Linked DNA regions of Homo sapiens. The protein of the gene in region 2 purifies or fractionates together with the protein of the main gene of each other region. This does not show direct contact. Each region holds a gene or a part of one and is shown on either strand. Other genes may lie near its edges. The genes, in order: DCAF4, PCID2 and UBE4B.

Region 1 (3,649 bases), on a different chromosome or scaffold from region 2:
TCCTAGCCACAAAAATGTTCCATGGGGTATAAGCCCTTTCTATAGGAATACCAGTAGAGGTGACAATTCTTGAAGACTGAGAACACATTCTGCAGTGTCAGCAGCTACTATTTCAGTGTGAAAGCATTGAGCCTGCACACTGTCTGATTACGCTATAGCCACCATCATCTGTAATCAACTGGTAACTCCCTTCCAGGGGGCTTAGTGGCCAGATAGCTGCTCCTAATCTGCAGATCATGGAGCCACAGGGATGGTAGTAAAGGGGCCACAAATCTTTTTTATTTATTTATTTATTTTGAGACGGAGTCTCGCTCTGTTGCCAGGCTGGAGTGCAGTGGCGTGATATCGGCTCACTGCAACCTCCGACTTCCTGGTCCAAGCAATTCTCCTGCTTCTGACTTCCGAGTAGCTGAGAGATTACAGGCAGGTGCCACCATGCCCAGTTAATTTTTGTATTTTAGTAGAGATGGGGTTTCACCATGTTGGCCAGGATGGTCTCAATCTCCTGACCTCGTGATCCACCCTCCTTGGCCTCCCAAAGTGTTGGGATTACGGGCGTGAGCCACCGCGCCGGGCCGGGGCCAAGAATCTTTACAATGACCATAACTTCTTTTCTCAGCATCCTCTGGTGGAAATGTGAGTAGAGACAACAGGGAGCCCAAGTTTTTGGATAAGATAGTTGCGTGGTGGAATAATGCTGGCCTGATGAAATCCACTCAAACTCCAAACCCAGGCTCCCCAGGACCTCCCCACCTGCCTGTTTCTGAAGTGACGTTTGCCCACTGACATGGGATGAGGCTGTCCACCTGGTGGACATTTATTTACACTCCTGATTACTAATATAATCTAATTCTACTTCCCTCCTAGTCTCCCCACCCAGCTGTCCACACTCCCCTTGATTCAGTTCTGTTTTGGGGTAACTTTTCCCTCTGCTGCTGAAGTTGCTGGGATCGCCCCTGAGAGACAGTATTTGATGGGGTGGAACTTCCCCTTCCTTCCTCAAGTACCTGCCACCAGGATTCCTTCTTCCTCGTGCACATGCAGGGGCAGGTAGGCGTACTCATTCACGTGGCCTTCGTACTGCCTTACGCACTTCGTGGTCCTCAGGTCCCACAGCTTGATCTGTGGAAAAAGCACCAGGGGCCATCAGGGAGGGGCCAGGGGGTACCATGGTGGTCCCCAAGTGCAAAGCCAGGAAGGCAAGGTGGTCTCCAGTGGCCTGTGCAGGTCATGAAGATCTCCATCTCGAATTCTTGAGCCTTGTTGTTCATCAAAAGCATGTAACCAGGCCGGGCACGGTGGCTCATGCCTGTAATCCCAGCACTATGGGAGGCCAAGGTGGGCAGATCATGAGGTCAGGAGTTCGAGACCAGCCTGACCAACATGGTGAAACCCCATCTCTACTAAAAATACAAAAATTAGCCGGGCGCAGTGGCGGGTACCTGTAATCCCAGCTACTCAGGAGGCTGAGGCAGGAGAATCGCTTGAACCTGAGAGACAGAGGTTGCAGTAAGCCAAGATAGTACCACTGCACTCCAGCCCGGGCGACAGAGCAAGACTCCATCTCAAAAAAAAAAAAAAAAAAAAAAAAAAGGACATAACCAGAGAATCCTTTTCACTTTTGTTTACGTCAGATTAGGCTCATATGGTCAACGAAGCAGTCCCCATGCAGGGCCTACAAATCACTTGGTCTTCAGCGAAATTCCCCTGCCTGGGGTCTTGGTGTGAGGACCTCTTCAGCAGAACCCTTTCACCTGGCAGGGCACTGGGCCACGAGACCCTGTGGCCTGAGAAAGTCCATGATCCCCTACCTTTCCAGCCATGTCTGAAGCCATCAGGTATTGCTCATCTTGGAGGATCCGCACAGAGGTCACTGCTGAATCATGAAACAGGCGGGTGGCCTTCCATCCCTTGCCTTGATTTCCACAACGCAGATCAATGGCAAAGATTTCCCCAGAGCGGCAGCCATTAAACAGCAGAGGAGCCTGTGGAAAGAGGGACTGCTCAGTGCCTGGCTATCATGACATCCCTCTGAGGCTGGGCAGGGCAGGTCCTCCTGATACAACCCCTCTTCCAGCCTCTGGGTCAGACGGTGTGATTAGACACGTGCTGGTCAGGGTTTGGGTCTCAATGGAGTTGGAAGGGAGGATGATTCCTTGTTAGTGGCTAGAAGAACCAGACCCCATGTGTCCTCCTCATGGGTAGCACGGAGGTCCTAGGAGCTGCCCCCCACCCCCCTGCACTGTCCCGTTTGGCCTTTCTCTCTGAAGTCCCAGAGATAGCATTCCATCTCCACCAAAAGCAGGTTAGTGGGTTCATTCACTTTTAAGGGAAGACGGCATTTTCTAGAGAAAAGTCTGTGAAATATAGTAATGACCACAATTTTTTTTTTTTTTTGAGACAGAGTCTTGCTCTGTTGCCCAGGCTGGAGTGCAGTGGTGTGATCTTGGCTCACTGCAACCTCCGCCTCCCGGGTTCAGGCAATTCTCCTCAGTCTCTCGAGCAGCTGGGATTACAGGCGCCCAGCACTATGCCTGGCTAACTTTCGTATTTTTAGTAGAGAAGGGGTTTCACCATCTTGGCTAGGCTGGTTTTGAACTCCTGACCTTGTGATCCACCCATCTTGGCCTCCCAAAGTGTTGGGATTACAGCCATTCATTAGCCACTGTACCTGGCCTGATTTTTTAAACATATAAAATATATAACCTGGGAGCTGTGAAGAATTGGTGTTTGGCTTATACATTTTAAAAATGGTTTGTCCTACTGGGTAAATCCAAGTACCCAAGAACTGCTCACAATACCTTTCCATGAGAGGTTGTGTAGAGCAACTCAGGCCAGCCTTTCTGGATCAACCAACTTTCACTCGGCTCAGACACCCTTACAAAGGAACCCACTGATCCTTTCTGATGCTCTTTCTCCCCTGTCAAAGAGTACTAGATGGCACACAGAGGAGTCCAATTTCAATCTGGCCAAATTTCTACATGGGGCAAACTTTTATATTCTGCCTGTCCCAATCCAACCAACCATGAGAGCAAACTGCTGGGCCAAGACATCACTGTTGGTCCCAAAGGACTGCCGGTGTCCCGTCACCACGTTGGTCAACAGGACCCGCCGAGACAAGCCTGGCGGAGACAGAGATGGGCTGGTAAGATTATGTCACATGTAGTCTGGGGAGAGGGACAACTACATGGGGTTTTAAGGCCTGTTAAGGCCTCTTCTCTGGGCACCTGGGGAGCCAGGCTCACCTGTACTGAAGCAGTTATTTGCTTGGATATTCAGGGACCAGGCACAGGACCAGGCACCAGGGATCCGGAAACTGCAGAGCATGCCAGGCCGGTCTATTCCTGCTAAGGGGATAGGAGAATGTAAAGTGTGGCTGCCTTCTAGGCAGGCCAGGGACCACTGGGTTCGGAAAACATCCAAATATGCCCATAGCTGCTCAGAGGGTCTATACCTTTGGCCCCATTCTGGGTTTTGTGGTTGCAAGAGAGACTCAGCTGGGATGCCTGGCTCACAAGTGGTTATTCCGAAAATGCATCTTTGTTAACGTTCCCAGTAGTCGTGTTTACAGTACGAATAGTACTGATATCAGGGAGGTAGTATACTGTTGGAGGTAAGGTGGCTCCGATCCTCGATCACCTACCAGCTA
Region 2 (3,649 bases):
TGTTTTCAGGGTTCATCTGTGTTGGAACATGTGTCAGTGTGTCGTTCTTTTTTATGGCTAATGATATTCCATTGTATGGAGTATTTTGTTTATCCATTCATCAGTTGATGGACCACTTCAGTTGTTTCCTCTTTTTGGCTGTTGTGCTGCTGCTGTGAACATTCTTGCGCAGGTTTTGTATTCTTTTTGGCATATACCTAAGAGTGGAATTGCTGAGTCATATGGTAATTCTGTGTTTAACTTGTTAAAGAAATGCCAAAGCAGCTAGCTGCATCATTTTACATTTTCACCAGCAATGTATGAGGGTTGCAATTTCTTCACTTTCTTGTCAATGCTTGTTTTTTTCCATTCTTTTTATTATGGCCATCCTGCTGGGTGCGGAGTGGTATCTTCTTGTGGCACCCCATGATCTTTCTTGTCCCAAAGATTTTCTTCATTATGTTCCTTTTGCCAAGAACACCTCTCTTTTTTACAGGTGTAGTGAACATCTTTATTTAGGGAATCAGCTTTGAGTTAGATACTTTACTCCTTAATCTTCAGTAGTTCTTCATATTGTCTTTCAAGAGTTTATGGAATTGGAAAGTTTGACTATTCAGAAGTGACTTCAGAGGTTCATGACCTGTAATGATTTTGAATTTTTAAAAGAGTTATGAGTTCCAAGAGTAGATGGTGCCTCCTGTGGACCAGACTGGAGGGCGTGAGGGGCATGCAGCAACCACAAGGAAGTCTTCCTGGGGCCAGAGCCAGGGAGCATCCCCTGGTGAGCCAGGCCTGGGGGTGCCGCTCAGAAGGTGCTCACTTGGAGTCTGGTTGTGTGGTCCCATTGAGGGCTGAAGGCTCTGCAGCATGAGCTGTTAAGAGTTGGCCAGGTGGCTGGGCTGCTAGGGGTCCTGTGTCCACTGCGGCGCCAGTCGCACCTTTAGGGCTTGCAAGTACCGTCCGTTGCCATCCCTGCTTTTCCTCTTCACATCCCCAGTCTTCTCACAGTTTAGTCATTGAGGCAGGGGCATTGATAGGACCACCCCTGGGACACATTCATGCCTGCCAAGCAAGCTGGGGCCCTCCTTGGGCTCAAGGCCCTGTGGCACTGAGCCCTCCTCTGGTCAGGTCACCCGTGGGACACTGGGTGCAGCCCAGGTAGGTGTGGCCAAGCAGAGCCCAGGATGTGGCGACATCACCCTGCATATGTGCAGGGACCACCCTGGGAGGTCACAGGCAAAGGAGGGCTACCAGTGAGTGCCCCCAGCAGGGGTCTCCGCCTCTCCTTGGAGGGCCCCGGTGTCTGTACTCCAGGGTTTGATCCCTTCGTGACCACTGTGTCCCCAGTGTGTTTAGTCATTGAAGTATGCTTCCATTCCACAGTGCTTGCTCCAAGTCTGGGACTCTCAGCTTTCAGTCACTCATAGGTTCCTTCTGCAGAGAGCTCTGGAGGCCTTGGCAACATCAGAACATCATGCTCAAGTGTGACCTGTCACCAGAGTACTGATGTTAACCAGAACACTCCTCTTCTCAGGCTCCTGGGGCTGGGCCCAGTGCAAGGCCCTGGGTGGTGCGAGAGATCGCACAGTGCGGGGCCTGGAGTGCCTGGAACCATAAGCAGGGGTGGCTGTGGGGAACTCTTAGCTTGAACCTCCTGTTTGTGTGGAACCAAAGAGAGCACGGCTTGGCCAGCAGGCTCCAGAACCGCTTTCTAGCCAGAAGCCCCTTAGTTGAGCAAGGTTGGAGTCTGTTGGGGCTCCTGTGGCTAGGCCTGCCCACATGGCACAGGGAGGGCCACTTTGGAAGGCATATCCTCTCTGGGGCTAAACTGACTAATACTGGTTTTCTTGGGGGACTTGCAGACCAAGACCTGGGTGGGATCGGTTGTTTTGCCTTCCATCCCAGGGCCAACTACTGATGGGAGGGCAAACGGGGAAGACGCAGTGTGCCTGCCTGGCCAAGGCAGTTGCCACCCTCATCCTTGAGGGCGCTGTTCCATTGCACCTGGTCAGATGGTCTCGAGGGAGCCAGAGGAGGCCCCTTTGGAGCTGGGCACCAGTGAGTTCTTGCAGGGCGTGGGCAGGGGACACCGGAAAGCCTCCTGCAGAGGATGGGCAGATACCAGTGTTGTCTTCTTGGGGCCATCTTCAGCTTCTTGATGATGATTGGCAAATGCAGTGTTGTAAATTGCAAAATACTGATCTGTAGCATGGTGATTTTAAAGAGGAAACCTAACCCTTTCCCCTAAACAGCTGAGGATCTTAGTATCTGTCTGTCTACCTTTTAGATGAAATCCCTAAACCTGTGGCCAGGGCTATGAAGAGAAACTTAGTTTCCATAATACTTGGGCCCAAATCGTCTTGCACCCATTTGTGACTTTGAAAATGTCAGGAGCTAGGCTATGATGTGACGTTGAGCAGCAGCTTGTGACCTTGCATGGACTGGGGCAGGAGGGCTGCCTCTGAATGGCTGTAGTTTTCCTATGAAGGCAGAAAACCTGCAAGTCTTCAGATGGCTTCAGCTGAAGATAAAGTTAAGTTCCTGCTTACACCTCCAACCCAAATCCCATGGGACTCTCCCTTCTCCTGCTCTGTGCCAGTGCTGCTCTTTCTCACTGACGACTGTGGTCCCGGCGACACCGCCCTACCCACTGCACTCACAAGCAGTTCAGGATTAGGGCCCTAGTGCCACCAACAACATTCTACTCAGTGATGTTGAAATTCAGGATTTTTTTTGTTTTGTTTTTGGCAGTCTTTTTGTCCTTAGAATAAGGACAGTCAAATTCCACAAACTACTGTTTTCAAAGGTTACTCATATAGGTATGTATTTTCTATTTGTTTCAATTTTAAGGTTTGTCTTTCTATTTTATTTCTTGAATGGGGTTGTAAGTAACTTATATTTAAAGGTGTGCTCAGAAACTTTCCTTCTCTCTCTCACCTCATTCCACCCCCCTCTCTAGAAAGATAATCATTTGCATTAGATTCTGCCTTCTCCATCCTGTATTTCCTTTTGGGATGTACATGTGACACACACACAGACATAAACACACATATTTTTCTTGTTTCCCTTCATTCTTATACAAGACGCAGCATTCTATACATACTCTTTTACAACTTGCTTTTTTCACTTAACTGTATCTTCCTAGAAATTATTGCATGTAAATTCCTAGAGATCTTCCTCATTTTCAAAAAATGGTTGCATAGTGTGCCTTAAAATAGATGTTTCACAGAGTATTCAGCCTGTCTCTATGGATGGATATTTAGTTTGTGTCCAATATTTTGTGATTACATGTAGCCGAGTACAAATACCTTCTGTTTCTAGTTGTAAGTTCCTGGCAGTGTGATTACTGTTTCAAAATGTAAATGCATGTGTAGTTGTATGGAATAGTCAGGGGGGAAATTCCTTATCATGGAAGTTAGTCTTCAGGAAGGTGGTGTCAGCCTCCCTGTCATACCCTGAGTTGAACAATGGGGTAGTAGGAGTTGGGCTCCAGTGTGTTGAACTGGTGGCATGTGCCTCCCTTTCTTCTGGGTATGGACACCTGGGCACAGGATTACTGGGTCAGAGAGTAGGCGTTTGCTTGCTTTAGTAGAATACCAATTTTCTTCTAAAAATTTACCCCAAGTTACCCCATCACCAATGTGTGAGCCTTCTAGTTGCTTCAGGCTCC
Region 3 (3,649 bases), on a different chromosome or scaffold from region 2:
GGCAGGTACCTGATCTTGGAGGGCTGTCAGAAACGTTTAGGAGTTTGAACTTTCTTTTTGTTGTTGTTTTTTGGGACAGAATCTCTCTCTGTTGCCCAGGCTGGAGTGAAGTGGCATGATCTCGGCTCACTGCAGCCTCTGGTTCCCGGGTTCAAGTGATTCTCCTGCCTCAGCCTCCCAAGTAGCTGGGATTACAGGTGCATGCCACCATGCCCTGCTGATTTTTTTTTTTTTTTGTATTTTTAGTAAAGATGGGGTTTTACCATGTTGACTAGGCTGGTTTCAAACTCCTGACCTCAAGTGGCCCACCTGCCTCTGCCTGCCAAAGTGCTGGGATTACAGGCGTGAGCCACTGCACGTGGCTGAGTTTGAACTTTCTCTGTAAAATGCCTTTTAGGGATTTTAAGAGATTAGAAAGATGGGTGGCAAGGGAGTAAAGGGTAGTTTGGGAGAAGGTGGCTGCAGACTGCAAGACATATTAGGAGGCTGTTGTTGCTGTATAGGAGCGAGGCAGTGGAGTCCAAGGGAACTAAGGCATTGCCTGTGGGAATGGAGGGGAGCAGACAGACACCAAAAATACCAAGGACTGTGATTAACCCAGTTTTGATGATCAGTTAGCTGTGAAGGAGGGGAGGGGAGGAGAGATGGAGAAATGACACCTTGGTTTCTAGCTATGGAGAAGGATAGATAAGGGTTGAATAAGGAATTCCAGAGAAGCAGCAGATTTTGGAGAAAGCACATGTTTCTTTTTTTTTTTTTCGTCTTTTGAGACAGGGTCTCCCTCTGTCGCCCAGGCTGGAGTGCAGTGGCGCAACCTCAGCTCACTGCAACCTCTGCCCCCTGGGTTCAAGTGATTCTCCTGCCTCAGCCTTCCAAGTAGCTGCCAGCCATGCCCAGCTAATTTTTTAATTTTTAGTAGAGACGGTGTTTCACCATATTGGCCAGGCTGGTCTTGAACTCCAGACCTTGGTGATCCGCCTGCCATGGCCTCCCAAAGTGCTGGGATTACAGGTGTCAGCTACCACGCCAGGCCTCCGGCTAATTTTTGTATATTTTGTAGAGACAGGGTCTTGCCATGTTGCCCAGGCTGGTCTCAAACTCCTGGGCTCAAGTGATCTGCCCACCTCAGCCTCCCAGAGTGCTGAGATTGCAAGTTTAATTTTGGACCACCAAAAAGATGAGTCCACATGTAGACCCCCACTCTGGCCTTGGTGCTCTAACATCTCCATTTCTTTCTTCTTTTTTCTTTTTTTTTTTTTGAGATGGAGTTTCGCTCTTGTTGCCCAGGCTGGAGTGCAATGGCGCGATCTCAGCTCGCTGCAACCTCTGCCTCCCAGGTTCAAGCGATTCTCCTGCCTCAGCCTCCCGAGTAGCTGGGATTACAAGCATGTACCACCATGCCTGGCTAATTTTTTTGTATTTTTATTAGAGACGGGATTTCTCCATGTTGGCTTGGCGGGTCTCAAACTCTTGACCTTAGGTGATCTGCCTGCCTCAGCCTCCCAAAGTGCTGGGATTACCGGCGTGAGCCACCGCACCCAGCCTAACATCCCCACCTCTTTGACCATTTCTTCCCTTGTAACAGGCCTGAGGACCTGAGGTCCCTTTTTTCCTCAGAAGATAGTTGCTACCATTCACTTTATAACCAGGACTCTTTCTTAAGCCTGGGAGGACAGTGGGATGTATCCTGCCAGGCCCTTTCCTCTCCTTTTGTTCATTGTAGACAAGAGACAGAGAATGATAATAAGGATATAAACTTGCTTCACAAGGTTGGCATCCTTATCCCCTGTTTTACAGATAAGAAAATGGAGGCTAATAGAAATTAATTTATTGAAAGGCACACAACTAGTAAGTGGTAGAACCTGGACTCTAATCCAGGTTCTGACTCCAGAGTTTTCTATCGCTTTACTACCTCTAAAACAAGACTTAACCTCAGCCAACTGTAACCTTTTTGGCATTCTTTTTTTTTTTTTTTTTTGATGGAGTTTCGCTCTCGTCACTCAGGCTTGAGTGCAATGGCCTGATCTCGGCTCACTGCAACCTCTGCCTCCTGGGTTCAAGCAATTCTCCTGCCTAAGCCTCCCAAGTAGCTTTGATTACAGGCTCCCGCCAGCATGCCCAGCTAATTTTTGTATTTTTAGTAGAGATGGGGTTTCTCCAAGTTGGCCAGGCTGGTCTCGAACTTCTGACCTCAGGCGATCCCCCCGCCTCGGCCTTCCAAAGTGCTGGGATTACAAGCGTGAACGACTGTGCCCGGCCACATTTATAGCATTCTTACGGTCCCTTCTGAGATAGGAAGTGGAAGCCCCAGTGGACTTTTTGTTTGTTTGTTTGTTTTTTAAGACAGAGCCTCGCTGTGTCCCCATGCTGGAGTGCAGTGGCACGATCTCTGCTCACTGCAACCTCCGCCTCCCGAGTTCAAGTGATTCTCCTGCCTCAGCCTCCCGAGTAGCTGGGGTTACAGGCACATGCCACTACTGCCCGGCTAATTTTTGTATTTTTAGTAGAGGGGTTTCACCATGTTGGCCAGGCTGGTCTCAAACTCCTGACCTCAAATGATCCACCCACCTCAGCCTCCCAAAGTTGTGGGATTACAGGCATGATGCTGGAGTGCAGTGGTGCTATCTTGGCTCACTACAACCTCTGACTCCTGAATTCAAGCGATTCTCCTGGGTCAGCCCCTCGAGTATCTGGGATTACAGGCGCCCGCCGCCAGGCCCAGCCCTCCAGTGGACTTTCATTCCCGTTTGTTATTGCTGAGAGTGGAGCTCATCAAGTAGCCCCAAGCTCTTGTAGGGAAAGAAGGCAGAAAGACTTCTCTGTGCAAAGTGCATTTTCTCACACGGCACTTGTAGTATCTAGTGGAAATGTCTTCCTGTAAACGGTTCATTCAACAGCGCTTACAGTTGACTAGCTGCATCCCTGATAACAGACAAACGTTGCTGTATGGAGCTTCGTCCTAGTGGGAGGAGAGGGATAAAAAACAAGCATGGCCGGGCGTGGTGGCTCACGCCTGTAATCCCAGCACTTTGGGATGCTGAGGCGGGTGGATCACGAGGTCAGGAGTTCGAGACCAGCCTGACCAACATGGTGAAACCCTGTCTCTACTAAAAATACAAAAATTAGCCGGGCGTGGTGGTGCACGCCTGTAATCCTAGCAACTCAGGAGGCTGAGGCAGGAGAATAGCTTGAACCCGGGAGGCAGGGGTTACAGTGAGCTGAGATTGCACCACTGCACTCTAGCCTGGGCGACAGAGTGAGACTGTGTCTCAAAAGCAAAGAAACAAACAAACAAACATGTTCACATAAGGTGTCATTTGATGAGAAGTGCTGTGAAGAGAAATACTTAGGGATGGAGTATTGTTACAGAGTATTTCTGTGGCCTACAGGTACAGAGAACAATCAGATATGTGTAACGTGTGCACTTTGAGGAGGTGGTCTTGAAAAGAATTTCAGGGATGGCTGGGAGCTTGCTCGGGGAAGAATGTTCCCAGGTAAAGGGAACAGCAGGTTCAGAAGGCCTTGAGGTAAACTCATTCTTGAGCTGTTCCAGGAATAGCAAGGATGCCAAGCATGGTTAGAGCCTTCTGTGCAAGGGGCACAGTGGCAGGAGGTAAAGTCATTCATTCTTTTTTTTTTTTTTTAATTT

What was found.
Region 1: the proteins of PCID2 (region 2) and DCAF4 purify together in Homo sapiens (co-immunoprecipitation; one large-scale study listed by IntAct). This does not show direct contact.
Region 3: the proteins of PCID2 (region 2) and UBE4B fractionate together in Homo sapiens (co-fractionation; one large-scale study listed by BioGRID). This does not show direct contact.

Annotation. Positions count from the first base shown.
Region 1 is NC_000014.9:72,953,859-72,957,507, reverse strand, and holds part of DCAF4 (DDB1- and CUL4-associated factor 4), read right to left. Parts: intron 3,348-3,649; coding exon of another isoform or gene 3,345-3,347; coding exon 3,246-3,344; intron 3,123-3,245; coding exon 3,025-3,122; intron 1,986-3,024; coding exon 1,812-1,985; intron 1,123-1,811; coding exon 1,008-1,122; intron 1-1,007. UniProt on the Homo sapiens protein: May function as a substrate receptor for CUL4-DDB1 E3 ubiquitin-protein ligase complex.
Region 2 is NC_000013.11:113,202,061-113,205,709, reverse strand, and holds part of PCID2 (PCI domain-containing protein 2), read left to right. Parts: intron 1-3,649.
Region 3 is NC_000001.11:10,039,376-10,043,024, forward strand, and holds part of UBE4B (ubiquitin conjugation factor E4 B), read left to right. Parts: intron 1-3,649. UniProt on the Homo sapiens protein: Ubiquitin-protein ligase that probably functions as an E3 ligase in conjunction with specific E1 and E2 ligases. May also function as an E4 ligase mediating the assembly of polyubiquitin chains on substrates ubiquitinated by another E3 ubiquitin ligase.